Regions from separate parts of the Homo sapiens genome. Here region 1 is linked to region 2. Evidence: fine-mapped expression QTL. Tissue or cell type: whole blood. Region 2 holds a variant in brackets; the other region holds the start of a gene. All regions are shown on one strand. Distances are between the middles of the regions.

The links. PIP is the estimated chance that this variant, and not a neighbour inherited with it, causes the effect.
Region 1: ASAP3 starts here. The variant in region 2 is fine-mapped to the expression of ASAP3 in whole blood (INTERVAL, PIP above 0.99).

Annotation. Positions count from the first base shown.
Region 1 is chr1:23,480,299-23,488,059 of GRCh38, forward strand. ASAP3 (ArfGAP with SH3 domain, ankyrin repeat and PH domain 3) reads right to left here and starts at 3,881. Exons shown (of 25, transcript NM_017707.4): 1 at 3,707-3,881. The coding sequence starts at 3,835. RefSeq lists silencers at 3,716-4,165, 4,286-4,395, 4,406-4,455 and an enhancer at 4,646-4,745.
Region 2 is chr1:23,427,481-23,435,241 of GRCh38, forward strand. It overlaps ASAP3 (ArfGAP with SH3 domain, ankyrin repeat and PH domain 3), which reads right to left. Exons shown (of 25, transcript NM_017707.4): 18 at 7,053-7,138; 19 at 6,774-6,889; 20 at 6,146-6,213; 21 at 5,945-6,052; 22 at 5,597-5,792; 23 at 4,216-4,438; 24 at 3,555-3,645; 25 at 1,083-2,450. The coding sequence ends at 2,376. LOC124903875 (a long non-coding RNA gene) reads left to right here. Exons shown (of 3, transcript XR_007065535.1): 3 at 232-1,503. Among named protein-coding and RNA genes, the nearest start is that of TCEA3, 6.6 kb to the left of the region's middle. The variant T/TA (reference allele first, on the strand shown) is at 4,525.

The sequences.
Region 1 (7,761 bases), 53 kb after region 2:
GTGTGTCCACTAGCAGTTTGAGGCACACAATATAGTATGAATTCTTAGCTCTGGTCAAAATGGCTTACTTGGTTCCCAATATGCTCTCTTCCCACCAGTCTCTGAATTCACTCCCTTGTCCTCTCCGATAAATGGGGTTCATCTATCCTTCCACCTGGAAGTGTCACCTCCTCCAGGAACTTCTCCCTCATTGCACCAGTCCTTACTGCTCTCTCCCTCTCCTGCTCCACTTGCCTCTTATGGCATTGACTGTACCTTTCTCTGGGGACTCAGGACAAACTCCTGGGGTTCTTACTGATCTCCCTGTAACAGGCTACTTCTCCCTAGTCAGTCAGCAAATCAAAGTAGCATCTTTATGTCCTTAGTGTCCTTTATGTCCATAGAGATGGCACAGAGAGCTGGACAGAGCCCAGGCAGAGCACAGCAGAGTCAGAGAGACCCACTGTGTGACACAGGGCAGCTGCCTCCACTGCCCTAGGCCCGGTTTCACCTGTTGTTGTGAATATCAATGAGATGATGGGCATAAAGGGGCCCAAGACAGGAAGAGGCTGGTTGACGTAATGACTATCTTAATATACTCCCTCACATTTGCATGGTGCTTCATAATTGAACACAAAAAACTTTAACAACCCAGTAAGGTAAGCAGGGAGTGATTAAGAGATCCATTTTAAGGATAAAATAACAAGGTTCAGAGAAGTTACGTAGGGAGGACAGACAGATGGACTTTAAAAGGAAAGAGAACAGGACCGGGGGTAGAACACGTGGGTAGAAATGCTAACTTTCCCACTATCCAGCCGCAGGAGCTTGGCCAAGTCTCTTGGCCTCTCTGGACATCAGTTACTCCATCTTATCTGAGAGAGTTTCTAGCTGGTCTCTATCTTAAAAGGGTCCCTCAGCCCTGACATTCTAGTTTCCTGTGATCTGCCCAGGGTCCTTCCCAGCAGGACTGTACAAAAGGGCTGCGAGTCCCAGGACAGGGTCCCTAGTTACTCCCAGGAAACCAGTCAGAACTGGAAGACTTGACTTAAGAATCAGTTGCATTTTGATTCAGTCAAATAGAGCTACAAGCCTGGGGGTGGGTTAGTCAAGCCCAGAACTGGGGGAAAAAATTGCAGCATCAAACTATATGTAAACACAATATAATCGCAAAATATAAATGCAAATGCAAAACCAAACAGGAAACCTCAGGGAAGTCTAATCCAAAGTTCAGACTCTAACTTTTTGGGCCCTGAGATGCTGAAGAGAAAAGCTGTGTTTGGGTGCCGCAAGCCTTTCTGTTGTAACAATGAACCTCTACGTGCACCAAACCAAAAATCTGAAGGCAAAGGAGGATGGGTTTTGTCTTGCCTGAACTGGGGCAAAGCTGAGCCCTGAACAGAGCCTGCTGTGGCCTCCAGACCCATTCTAAGGGTCCCTCCCCCAACACACAGTGCTTACACTTACACAGCCAGGCAAGGCCAGATGTATGGGCATAAATGGGCATTTCTGTCCATGGATAAGGTTCATATTGGAGCCCCTTCTCCTGCTCTAAGATTCTAATGAACAACCTGGGGAGGAGGATGAACCATGAAATCCCTAAGAATGTGGATGGCACTGAGCTATTCTGGGTCATGAAATGTGAGGCTATGAAGACAAATCTCAGGAAGCTCTCCAAAGGATGGGCTGGACAGCAGTGTTTCCCTGTGAGCCCCACAGTAAAATATAACCCACATCCACAGGCAGTGGACTCTGCCCAAGGAAGGAAGCCAAATCTGACCGGCTGCTTCTTATTTTAATAAAACATGTACCCCTACTATGTGCAAAGTAGTAGGCTAGGCTCCGTGAGACAAATGAGACAAGGTGAGGCTCTGTGAGACAAATGAAGACAAAAGAGACCCAATCACTGTCTAAAGAGATCTGCCGATTAATCTGACGATAATCATTCCATTTATCAAGAGGCATGGGCCAGTGCAGCGGCTCACACCTATAATCCTAGTACTTTGAGAGGCCAAGGCGGATAGACTGCCTGAGCTCAGGAGTTCAAGAACAGCCTGACCAACATGGTGAAACCCTGTCTCTACTAAAAATACAAATATTAGCCGGGTGTGGTGGAGCATGCCTGTAATTCCAGCTGCTTGGGAGGCTGAGGAATGAGAATTGCTTGAACCCGGGAGGCAGAGATTGCAGTCAGCTGAGATCGCACCACTGTACTCCAGCCTGGGAGACAGAGCAAGACTCTGTCTCCAAAAAAAAGATGCATGCTTTATATGCATTGTCTCATGTGAGGTACACATTATTACCCCCATTCCACAGATGACAGGACAGGTCACATGCCCACGTTCACCCAAATGGCAAACTGCAGAGCCAGCGTTTGAAAAAAGGTCTGCCTTGGCCGGCGCGGTGGCTCACGCCTGTAATCCCAGCACTTTGGGAGGCCGAGACGGGCGGATCATGAGGTCAGGAGATCGAGACCATCCTGGCTAACACGGTGAAACCCCGTCTCTACTAAAAATACAAAAAAAAAATTAGCCAGGCGTAGTGGCGGGAGCCTGTAGTCCCAGCTACTCGGGAGGCTGAGGCAGGAGAATGGTGTGAACCTGGGAGGCGGAGTTTGCATTGAGCCAAGATCGCGTCACTGCACTCCAGCCTGGGCGACACAGCGAGACTCCGTCTCAAAAAAAAAAAAGGAAAGAAAAAAGGTCTGCCTTCCCCAAAGTCGATGCTCCTTCCACAATCCTCTATCACCCTTACAAAGTGATACAAACAGACTCCGAGATGGAGGGTCACCCTGACAAGAGAGAAGAGGACAGATTTCCTGACACTGGCGCAGGGTGTTATGAACTACTGAGCTTTGTATCTGCCACGCAGTGGGTGCCTAGTACACTTAAGGTGAAGGGTGGAAGGCTAGAGCCGTTGCTGAGGTCCAAAATGCCACCCAAATTGAGGGCATCCTTTGGATGGGGAGCTGCAAAAACACATTATTCTCCGTTGGACCAAGGCCACGGGGTGTCTGTCCTAGAATATTCTTTGCAGAGGAGCTGCGGAAAGCTGCAGCAGGTTCAGAGAAGAGGAATGGAAGGAACTCCGAAGAGCATGGGAATGGGGTGGGGCAGCCTGCAAGACCGAAAGAAAAGGCCTGGGACGCTTTGCTGGGAAAGACAAAGAGGAGAGGGGAGGGGAGAGGAGACGATAAACTTGCCAACAGCCCGGCCAAGGTGAACCCCGGCTCCTGGCGCCTTCCCATCCGCATTCATTCCACAAACGCGGGCCAAATCTCCGAACCAGCCGCAAGCGGGAGGGGGCCTCTCTGCAGCCGGGGGGAAGAAAGTTCAGGACTGAGGCGGGAAGCCTGCCTCTCAGAAGGGGAGTGACTCGGGGGGCACACTTGTGGGGCTCCGAAGATGAAAACGCAAACTGAGGCTGGAAGGCGCTAGGCAAACACATATGTGATGAGGCGGTCACGCGGGGCACTTGGGGTACGTCCCCCGACCTGTGGAGTTTGTCATCGAAGAGACCTCGAGGCCCCCCAAAACGGTCCCTCGGGCCTTCCCCCGCCTCGACGGTGAGGACGCAGCTGTTGGAGATGCGCTCGGTCCTCCCAGACCTAGGGAGGGGGCAGGTTTCGGGGCGCGGTGAAGGGCCATCGCAGCTCGGGTGCGACACGCCTGTGGAGGTCAAGGCCAGGCCCGGCGCCGACCCCCGACCCCTCCCGCCTCGGCCCCCTCACCTCCTCCCGCGCCAGCGCCGCCCCTCGGTACCGGGGCATCTTGGCGGCGAAGGCGGCGGCCCCAGCCGGGGAGCTGAGGTCCTCCGCGGTGACGGCCAGGAACTCGGCGACGCTGAACTGCTCCGGCATGGCGGGCGCGAGCGTGGAGCTGCCGGAGCGGGGCGCGGGGGGCACTGAGCTGCTCCGCGCTGAGCCGGCCTCACCGCCGGCCGGGGGCGCCGTCCCGGCCTCCACACGCCCCGCCCCTCCGCACGCCCCGCCCCCGACCCTCCAGCCGCTCTCCGCTCCTCAGCTGGGACGGCCCCGCCCCCGGCTCCTCGCCTTCCTCCACCGCCAAGGTCCAGGCTCCGGCCCCGGTCCCGGCCCCGCACCGCGTCAGGCCGCTTCCCCGGCCCCTCGCCGGCCCCCTAGGCCACGCCCCCAGCCCCTCACCGCCTCAGACCCCGCCCCCTGGCGCGATGCCCCACCCCTGGCCTCAGTAGAAACTCCTCCGCCTTCCCCCATCCCTGCCCCTTCAGGGCTCTGTCCCGTTTCATCCCGCTCTGGGTCTTCCAAATCCTCCTCCCTTGCACGGCCCAGGCTGTTCCATCTCCGCGTCGAGTCTTAGAGCCCCCTCCCTCTTCCTCCCTCCTCTGCTGATTCGTTCCGAGTTCCCCATGACCTCGCCCCTTCTGCCCTACCACCCCCCCGCCACCCTTCCCTCCTCTCTCCCCAGTCCCGCCCAATCTCCTTGCCTCGCTCCGCCCCGAATCGCCCCACCCCTCCTTTGCTGCGTACGCCCAGCTCTCAGCCTCAGCTTTGCAGGCATCCGGAGACTCCCTCCTGATAACCCCCGCCGCCCCGGGGATGTGTGGATCGGGGCCCCTGGCTAGCTGTGTGACTTGGGGAAAATTACTTCTCTTCTGGAACCTCAGTTTCCTTATCTGTACAATGGGAAGCCTGATGCCCGCTTGATTGTGATGTTGCGAAGAACCGAACACGTGCGTGTACTAGTTCCCTCTTACCCGACCATAGATCGCACCCACGCCTTTACTCTTCCTGCTCCTGCCTTTCACCCCTTAATCTGGCTCACCATCCTTTGGGGCGGATGAGGGATGGGGTTCAGGATAGAAATCCACTTAGGTTTAGTTCTGAAGCCTGAGGTCCTCTGGGGAAAAGTTCTCCAAGTAAAAAGCTAGGAAAGCACCGCAGCAAGGAACATTGGTTTTGGAGTCAGAGGAACCTAGATTCCAATCTTGGTTACTTTGGATAAATTGCTTGCTTCTCTAAGCCTGCATTTCCCCCTCTTAAAATGGCCTCATGGTATTTTACCCCACAGGGCGGCGATTGAGAGAATCTTTTCTTTTCTCGCACAGAAAAGAAAAGAAAAGAAAAAATCCGGAAAGATATGCACTAAAATGTTGCACCAGCAACATTTTATGCACTAGCTGAAGACAGATATGCACTAGCTGAAGACATTATGAGTAACTTTCTTTTCTTTTGGTGAATCTGTATATCCTAACTTTTATACAATGACCATATACTACTGTGTAATAGAATTAAAAGTTGACGGGAGCGATGGCTCATGCCTGTAATCTTAGCACTTTGGGAAGCCGAGGTGAGCGGATTGTTCAGGAGTTCAAGGCCAACCTGAGCAACATGGCGAAACCTTGTCTCTACAAAATATACAAAAATTAGCCCGGCGTGGTGGCTCTTGCCTGTAGTCCCAGCTACTTGGTGGGCTGAGGCAGGAAAATGGCTTAAACCTGGGAGGTCAAGTTTGCAGTGAGCTGAGATCCTGCCATTGCACTCCAGCCTGGGTGACAAAGTGAGACCCTGTCTCAAAAAAAAAAAAAAAGAAAAAGAAAAAGAAAAGAAAGAAAAAAGAATTAAAAGTTGAAAAAAATGTGTACCATCTGATAGAGACGACAACTATTCCAAGAGTTCTTTCAAGGTCAACTTCTCCTGTTGAAACCAAATAGGCACTTTTCTTGTTATTTATTTTTAGAGACAAGGTCTCACTCTGTCGCCCAGGCTGAAGTGCAGTGCAATGATCATAGCTCAAGGCAGCCTCAAACTCCTGAGCTTAGGCACTTTTCTTGCTTGACTTTTAGGAGCATCTGACAATGTTAACCACTCCCTTCTCCTTGAAACACCCTTGCCCCTGAATCCTAGGAGAACTATTTTCTTTGGTGGCCCTCTCCCTCTGGCTGTTCCAAGAGCCCTTTCTGAGATGCACTTCCTCCGCAGGGATCTTAAATGCTGGAGTTGTTGGGAGCTCTCTGCTAAATCCTCTGCATGTCTCACTCTATCAGCCTTCCTGGATTTCTTCATCCAATCCCAACGGTAATGTTGATGTCTTCTGTACTAGTTTCCTGTTGCTACTATAACAAATCACCAATAACTTCCCTCAGCCTCCCGAGTAGCTGGGATTACAGGCACGTGCCACCACACCCAGCTAATTTTTGTATTTTTTAGTAGAGACGGGGTTTCGCCGTGTTGGCCAGGCTGGTCTTGAACTTCTGACCTCAGGTGATCCGCCCACCTCGGCCTCCCAGAGTGCTGGGATTACAGGCATGAGCCACTGCGCCTGGCCACATTTATTCTTTTACATGTCTGGAGGTCACAAGTCTGCAATAACTTTCACTGGGCTAAAATCAAGGTATCAGTGGGGCTGTACTTCCTCTGGATGCTATAAGGGAGCATCTGTTTTCTTGCTTTTGCAGCTTCGAGAGCTGTAGTTTTTGCATTCTTTGGCTTATGGCACCTTCCACCTTCAAGGGCAGCAGCATCTTCAAGCATCTTACTTGCCTTCTTCCCTGTGATCAAATTTCTCCCAGCCTCCCCACCCCTCTTCTTTTTGTTTTTTTTTTGTTTTTTTTGAGACGGAGTTTCACTCTTGTTGCCCAGGCTGAAGTGCAATGGTGCGATCTCAGCTCACCACAACCTCCGCCTCCCGGGTTCCAGCGATTCTCCTGCCTCAGCCTCCAGAGTAGCTGGGATTACAGGCATGCGCCACTATGCCCGGCTAATTTTGTATGTTTAGTAGAGATGGGGTTTCTCAATGTTGGTCCTCGAACTCCTGACCTTAGGAGATCCACCCGCGTCGGCCTCCGAAAGTTCTGGGATTACAGGCATGAGCCACGGCGCCCGGCCCCCTCTTTTTTTTTTTTTTTTTTTTTTTTTTTGAGGCAGGGTCTCATTCTGTCACTCCAAGCAGTGGAGTGATCACAGCTCCCTGAAGTCTCAACCTCCTGGGCTTTTGCGATCCTCCCACCTCAGCCTCCCAAGTAGCTGGGACTGCAGGTGCATGACACCACGCCCAGCTAGTTCAACCTCTCTCTTTTTTTTTTTTTTTTTTTTGAGACGTGATGCCTCTCTGTCGCCCAGGCTGGAGTGCAGTGGTGTGATCTCAGCTCACTGCAACCTCTGCTTCACAGGTTCAAGGGATTTTTGTGCCTCAGCCTCCTGAGTAGCTAGAATTACAGGCCCATGCCACCACACCCAGCTAATTTTTTATTTTTATTTTTTATTTACTTATATTTTTATTTTTTGTATTTTTAGTACAGACAGGGTTTCATCATGTTGGCCAGACTGGTCTCCAACTCCTGACCTCAAGTGGTCCACCCACCTGGACCTCTCAAAGTGCTCAGCCTCCCTCTTATAAGGACATTTGTGATTACATTTAGGGCCTATCCAGATAATCCAGGATAATCTCCCCATCTCAAAATCCTTAATTTAATCACACCTGCAAAATCTCTTTTGCTATATAAGTGCCATTTACAGGTTCCATGGATTAGGACCTGGATATCTTTGGGAGCCATTACTGAGCCAATCACATCTTCCAAGGCTGTATTTCCAGCCTGGACTCTTCTCTAGTTCAAGATCTATGTATCCAGCCACCTATGAGACAGTTTCATTTCACTGGCTCACAGACAGACACCTTAAACTCTACAGGTCCAAAACTGAACTCACCATCTCGTACGCCCACTCCTTGCACCAGATTGTTTTCTGTCCCTGTCTTGATGGAAGGCATTACCATGCACCCCCTCGGAGTCATCCTCTCCTCCCTTCTT
Region 2 (7,761 bases):
GAGAGAGATTTTTCTCAAACTTCCACCCAGTCACCACCCTGAGATGCGCGACATCAAAAAAAAGTTAAGACTCCTAGAATGTCAGGGTATGAAGGCCCCTAAGAAAACATGGAGTCCAACCTCTTTATTGTATAGATGGGAAGACCGAGGCCTAAAGAGGGTGATGATTCTCTCAGGGTTGGACCCTGTTGATACCATCATATCCCCTCTGCCTACCTGTCCACCCTACAGGTCACTGGAAGATAATTCCTGGACACACCTTGGACAGCTCCCCACATTTCTCTATTTGGAGCTTTGGGGTGGTAGGAAATTGATGCCCTCAGAAAGGACACCCCCAACCAGCAAGAAACCAGAGTTGGTGGAAAACATCATTTCTTCACTCTCGATGGGACAACCTGAAGGCATGTTCTAGTCAATACTCCTTCTCACAGGTCCCCAACAAGAGTTAGAGACAGAGTCTCGCTCTGTTGTTCAGGCTGGAGTGCAGTGGCGCCATCATGGCTCACTGCAGCCTTGAACTCCTGGGCTCAAGCAATTCTCCCACCCGAGTAGCTGGAGTATAGGTTCTCACCAACACGCACAGCTCTTTATCTTTGACTTTCTGTTTCATTTCTCTATTCCCTCATTATGCTTCCTGGGATCATTTCACAGATAAGCTACTTGCTCCCAAATCCTTGTCTCAGGGGCAGTCAACAGAGACAGTGGCAGAGGACCATGGGAGAGCTAGAATTTCAGGTCTCCAGACTCCTAGTCCAGTGCTCTTTCCAGGGTTTCTCAACCTTGGCACTATTAACATTTTGGACTGGATAATGCATTGCTAGGGAGGGTTGACCTATGCACCGTAGGATGTTTAGTAGCATCCCTGACCTTTGTCCACTAAATGCCACTAGCATCCTCCAGTTGGGAACAGTCAAAACTGTTTTCTGCTTTATCAGAAGTTCCCCGGGGCAAAACACTGTGGTTGCAAACCACTATTCCACATCAGGCCATCTCCCTTGCCAGGTCCAGAGAAAGAATTTCAAGCCCCAAGATTCCTTTCCCCTCCCTGTTGCTCTTTAGATCACATAAATGAAACCACTGGAAACTGACCCCCCAATCCTTTATTAGAGATGAGTGAAATAACAAGTCTGAGATGAATGAAACCAGACACTGGGGGCTCAAAAGACAACCCTGTTCCTGTGGGAACCACAGACCAGTCAGGTCTCCAGGGGAAACAGCACAGCCTCCCCAGCCAGGCAGCTGTGTTGGCCATTGGTGCTCTCTAGTCTCCCCTGCTTGGCTTGGCCCATTCCTGCCAGGGCCCAGCACCCAGCAACTGGCAAGTTGAGATGTTAGTGGTTGATGATGGCTTAGGTGTATCTGCTTTCTCATTGGGGCTGAGCAATGATAGAATTTCTAGGGCTGGGAAGCAGAACCCTTAAGTCTCTGCCCTCCCAATTCTATTACTCTCCCTTCTTTCTTTGCCTCTCCATTCCCTCAGACTAAAAGGCTCCTGAGTTGACCAAGAGAAAGAGAAGAGAAGTGGGCATCCATCAACCCTGACTATTCCTTTCCTTCCTGCTAAATCAAGGACACAGGCAAATGTGGGTGCATCTGACTCTACAATTTGGCTGGGGAATATAGGAGAATGCCTAGGGAAGGCTGTGCTGTCCCTCAAAAGGAGTGACATTCAGAATATTTTTATTTAACAGCCAGTACAGCATGCATGTTGACCAGCCAGAATGGATGTGATCTGTAGACAATTGTAATGGTCATATAGGTATAAACCAGCTGAGTCCAGAGCCATGCCCTGGAATCTGACCCTGCCTATTCCCAAGCCCAACCCTTAAGACCAGCTTTCCACCAAAGGACCACCCCTGCAGGGCCCTTGTCTTACTCGTGTGGTATCTGAAGTGCCTAACACAGGTCCAGACATAGAGTTGGAATTTAGTGAAGGAATATTAGACTAATAAATGGCTGGCTGAGAAGACAGTCCCTACTTGGCAGGGTCCCTGATCTGGAAGTCAGTGATGGAGGGCTCTCCTGCCCTTGTGAAGCCCCCAGACTGACGGGGGAAATAGAGTCTCGATCTGATGAGGGACTGAGAGTTCTGCAGCTGAAGCCAGCTCAGGAGCACTCAGATCCAGCCACAGGGCTCCCAGGCCCCTAGCGGGTAATGAGATAGGAAAGAACCGCCATCAGTCCTAACAGGGAAAGGCCATGTGTCCTTGGTAGAGGCATGGCCTGTGGCAGGAAGAAGGCCAGCTACAGAGGCACAAGGGACAGAGAGAGTGAGATCCAAGAGAACAAATGTCTCAGCTCCCCAGTTTTGTGAGCTCAAGTCCCAGCTCTGAACATTGGGGCCTAGCATGGGGCATGTGGGGGCCAGCAAGGAGCTAGTCTTGCAAAAGTTGCACAGAACTTGCTGGGAGACTCCCAGTCCTTGAGCCATCTCCTTCAGTGATGCCAACCTGCAGAAAGAAGGATGAAACTGACATTTTCAAAGCACCTGTAACATACCAGGTGTTCATCTCACTCAGTTTCACATCTGTCCTATTGTAGATAAATTAAATTATTCTCATTTTACAGACAAAGAAACTGAGGCTTGAGGAAGTGAAGCCACTTATCCAAAGTCTCCTTACTCTAAAGCCCAAGCTCTTGCTATCATACACACCACAATCACAGGCATCAATTAAATGCCATCTGATGGATACTTGGTTTTCAGGGCAATAGTGGAACCAGAATATGGACATAGATTTGTGTCTGCTGACTAACTCTGGTGGACTAAAGATGACGATTCCCCAGACAGAACCAGCTTTTGCCCCTGCCATCCTGACTCCCAACACAACCAATGCCATTCTGAGGAATTCCCAGAGGAACAAGGGACAGAAGAGGCTTCTTTCCCAACACAACTGGCTCTGATCTGTGCCCACTCCTAGGTTCAACTAATATATGCCATTGTTGGAGACTTGGTGATTCAGCAGGGAGAAGCTGGATTAAGGATGACAGCTCTTGCCCTGTCCCTGTCACATCCCTCTATGCCTGGGATCTGAAAGTCCCTGTGGATTCCAGGAGACTCATGAACAAGGGGAGAGTTAGGCAAACAAGGGCTGGTACACGGCCACCTAATCCTGCCTCTTCTGCAGGGAAGTGATGCCTTCTCTGAGCGACTGGCCTGGCTAACACAACTTTCCTCATCCTCCCCTGGGGAGAAGCCAGAGCTTGGGCCTCATGATCACTGCCATCCCTCAAGGCCTGGGCTCTCCTCAGCTTCACCCAGCCCTGGGCTGGAGCATGGAAAGAGGAGCACCAGGACAGGGACTGGCCAAACTGCAGCCACCTGGGCACCAGGACAGGGACTGGCCAAACCGTGGCCACCTGGGCACCAGGACAGGGACTGGCCAAACCGTGCCCACCTGGGCACCAGGACAGGGACTGTCCAAACTGTGGCTGCCTGGGCCCATCTGTACCCCAACCATGGGGAGGTCTCCCACCCCAATACGCCTACTCTTGACTAACTCTGCCTCCCAGGCACCCTGCCACCGCCCCTCAAACCATGGTCCCAGAGTTCCTACCGGCACGTTCCTTCTGGGCAGAGGCTGCCTGGCTGAGGGACCATCTTCAGGGCTCCGCGCCCCCCGCCGATAGGAGCGAGTGCTCTCGGAGCTGGAAGGCAGGGAAAGGCCAACATGACCCTCATGTCCAGAGAGCCCCTCAGAGTGGGGAGAAAGGGCTCAGGAACAGAGCCAGTCTGGGGGCTTAGGATGGGTGGGTAGAGTCCACAAGGCCCCCAGGCCAGGTCCATCACAGGCCCAAGAAGGCTGGAACTGACCTCCAGAAGACTCTGTGGATATCTGCAGGTCTACTTCTCCCCAAACTCCAGACTGAATGGGTTTGTATGGAAGGGAGAAGACTGGATCCTGGGTTGGAGGTGGGGACAGAGTGAAGACCCCACTGAGAGCCTCTAGAATAAGCCACACAGGGGGCTAAGCCTACTTTACTCCAACATCAGCAGGGAGGATCCCTGGCTCCTCCTCAGCTCTCCATGCAGGATTTGGGAGCAAGTGTGTGAAGGGGGAAGGGGTCCCAGGGTTCAGCATTTCTGCATAAGTGATGGGCCCAGAGATGGCGTGTGACCCAGTCTTTAGGCAGGTACTATTTAGAGGTGTGGAAATCAATGGATGCTCAGAGAAGTCAGGGGATTTGCCCTGGTTGCACAGCTGGGCCCTCACCAACCTGAATCTGACGGGGAGGTACATCTCCGAAGGGGTGGTCCCGGATGTCAGGCTGGGTCTGGAGGTGCCTGGGGGCTCTCGGAGGCCCTCTTCAGAGTTGGGTGGGGCTTGGCTGGGATCCCCAGGTTCCAAGGGGCTCATCAGACTGGAGGAGGAGGCTGGACTGCCCAGGCTCTCAGGGGTCTCAGGGGCCTCTGAACTCAGGCTGGAGACTTCAGAACGATCTGGAATCAGAAACATCAGAAATGATAAAGCTTTTCTTTATCACTTGCTCTGTGCCCAACCTCAAAGCAGTCTCTGGCCTCTAGGA[T/TA]TTTTTTTTTTTTTTTTTTTGAGACAGAGTCTCACTCTGTCACCCAGGCTGGAGTGCAGTGGTGCAATCTCGGCTCATTGCAACCTCCGCCTCCCAGGTTCAAGAGATTCTCCTGCCTCAGCCTCCAGAGTAGCTGGGATTACAGGTGCATGCCACCACACCTGGCTAATTTTTGCATTTTTAGTAGAGATGGGGTTTCACCATGTTGGCTGGGCTGGTCTCAAAATCCTTACCTGGGGTGATCCGCCTGCTTCGGCCTCCCAAAGTGCAGAGATTACAGGCACGAGCCACCACATCTGGCCTAGGATCTCTTCTGGTTCTCTGCCAATAGTCCATTCCCCATCTACCTGTCCAGTATTCTCCTTCAACTGATGAAGCCTTTGTTCGCGGTGGCCAGGGCCATGCTGACTCACTTTTTTGCTTGTGCTCATACCCTGTCCCAGTTTGGATTCTCCTGCTCATCCCTCAGGTTCACTCATATGCTATCCTCACCAGGAAGCCTTCTTAAACCAACCCCCAATCCCAGCAGGACATGCTCCCTCTCCAACTGCCCCAACCTCCCACAACAAGTCTGTTCCTTCATTCGACAAATAGTTCTTGAGAACAGCCAGGCTCTGCGCTAGGCACTGGACAAATAGTATTCAATGAAACACTCAAAGTCCTTGTCCTTTTGGGATTTACATTCTATATCACATTGTGCCTTGTATTATAATGAATTGCATTCCAGTTTTTATCTCCCCTACTAGACTGTGTCTTGGTAGCCCTCAAAGGACTCAGGATGAAGGGGATGCTCAATAAACTCGTTTCTCTCTTGTTAAGTGGAGCATTGAGGAATTTGGAATAAGATGGGCTGAGATTTGAATCCTACATCAGAGACTTATTAGCTGTGGGATCTTAAACATGTGACTTAACACCTCTGTTCTTTTATCTGTAAGGGGAAGATGAGAACCCCTTCCTGGGAGGTCATCATAAGGATAGTACGGACTAACATATGCACTCAGCTCAGTGCCCCAGCATATACAGGTCCTCTGTGAATGGCATGGTGAGCATTTATCTGGGCATCCAACTGTACCTCCACTGGCATGTCTTGCACACCCTTGGACCAAAGTCCGAGAAGAGTTTTTGACTGGCAAGGGCGGGGGACAGTCCTCACTCTCGCCCTGAGGGGTGGCTGCTCCCAGGCTGGCGACAGTCTCATAGGTCTTGTTGCTGATGTCCAGCCTCCCACTGGCCCAGTGAGCCTGGGCCGGGAGCTTCAGCAAGCAGCGCTGCCAGAGCAAAAGATTGAGGATGAGGACAGCCTGGTTCCTCCGGTGTAGCCCTGTCCCCCCGCCTCACCGCCCCCGCCAACACACACCAGGCCCAATCTGGCTCTTTCCTTCTGCCATCCAGAGGCCTGAGGGACAGGGCTGGGACCCACCTTCTCTTCCTCATCCTCCTCACTGTCAGAGCCAGGCTCTGTGGAAATTACCCAGGAGTAGTCCACATGTAGAGGGAAGGCAAAGGTCCCCGCCTGGGCCTGCTCCAGCTGCCAAAAACAAAGGCTTGGTGGTTCAGAGGGTTGGGGGCTCAGCAGGGAGAGAGAAAGAGTCAGGGGCCCCTTGCCTCCCCGAGTCCTCACCAGCTCCTCACACTCCTTGTGGTGCTTCTTCCTGGCTATGTCCAGAGCTGTCTCGCCTGCTTCATTTACTGTGAGCGGGGAAAGTCAGGGTTCATGGTCATAGTCAAAGAAACATTACAGCTTAGAGATTAAGACGGGCCTCTGGAATCAGAATGTATGGGTTTGAATCCTGGCTCTGCCATTTTCTGGCTATGTGACCATAGGCAAGTTATATAACCTTTTGGGACAAAATTGTTTATGAAATGAGTATAATACTTGGAACTACCTGATGAAGTGGTTGTGAGGATTCAATTAATTAACATACAAAAAGCACTTGTCCCATTGCCAGGCATATGTTAAACAATACATATTAGCTATTACAATCATTATCATTCAGATCTAGCTAATATTTATTTGCCTAAGTACTCCCAGAAATATTATTTTCTTTTTTCTTTAGCAGTCCTGCTAGGTCAGTGGTATTATTCCCATTTTACAGATGAGGAAGCTGAAATTCAAGAGCTGAATGACAAACCCCTAAGATCACAGAGGTGGTCAGAAGCAAGCCAGGATTAGAGCCCGAGACCATCGGAAGTCCACATAAGGGGTAGTCAGGAATAGGAGTCTGACGGAGGAGGTATTCAAGCCCCACCTGTGCCAACCAAAGCTCTCCCCTTCAGCAGCAGCTTGAGGCAGTCGGGCTGGTTGTAGAGTGCTGCGTAGTGCAGAGCCGTGTTCCCGTCAGCAGCCTTGGCATCCAGGTGACCACTGGGGAGAGGAGGGTTCAGGGAGAAAGGAAGGGGAACAGATCAATGAGGGGATCAAAGTCAGGGGAAAAAGTGGGAGGGGAAAGGAGGGAAGAGAATGGGAGAAGAGGAAGGAAAGGAGAGGGAGTGTGAGGAGCCAGACAGACAGGCAGGGAGGCTCTCACCCGTTCTGGATGATGAAATCCACCAGAGGCAGGGAAGCCTGGTTGGCGACTTTGACAGCCAAATGCAAGACGAGTTCTTCAGGTGCCTGAAAACACATCCACACCTCTGAGATTCCCCCCCCAGTGCACCTGCCTCCAACCCAGTATTTCCCTCTTGAACTCTTGCTAACCCCTTATCCCCCCATAGGAAGCTGCCAGAACCCTGGAGAGATGAGACTGCAAGGGCAGAGCCTCATGTCTGGGAGGAAGGTGAAGGGCCATTCTCCCATTGTTCCCATTCACGGCTCTTCCTCCTCTGCCCCCAACAAGTGTTTCCCAAACTTCTTTCTCAGCTCTCGGCTCCTCTCCCTGATCGCACTTCCCCACCAAGACCTCAGCAACCTCACATTTTCAACTATCACACATGTGCAGGCTGTTCCAAATTCTTACCTCACCTAAGTGCTGCACTGCCCATTGGATAGCCCACCAAGATATCAGACAGACAGTTCAAAGATACCCGTTTTTAGTTTTTCTGAGACAGGGTCTCGCTTTGTCACCCAAGCTGGAGAGCAGTGGCGCAATCACAGCTCTCTGTAGCCTCAACCTCCTGGGCTCAAGCCACCCTCCCACCTCAGCCTTCTGAGTAGCTGGGACCACAGGTGTGTGCCACCATACCCAGCTAATTTTAGTTGTTGTTGTAGAGATGGGGGTTTCCTTATTTTGCCCAAGC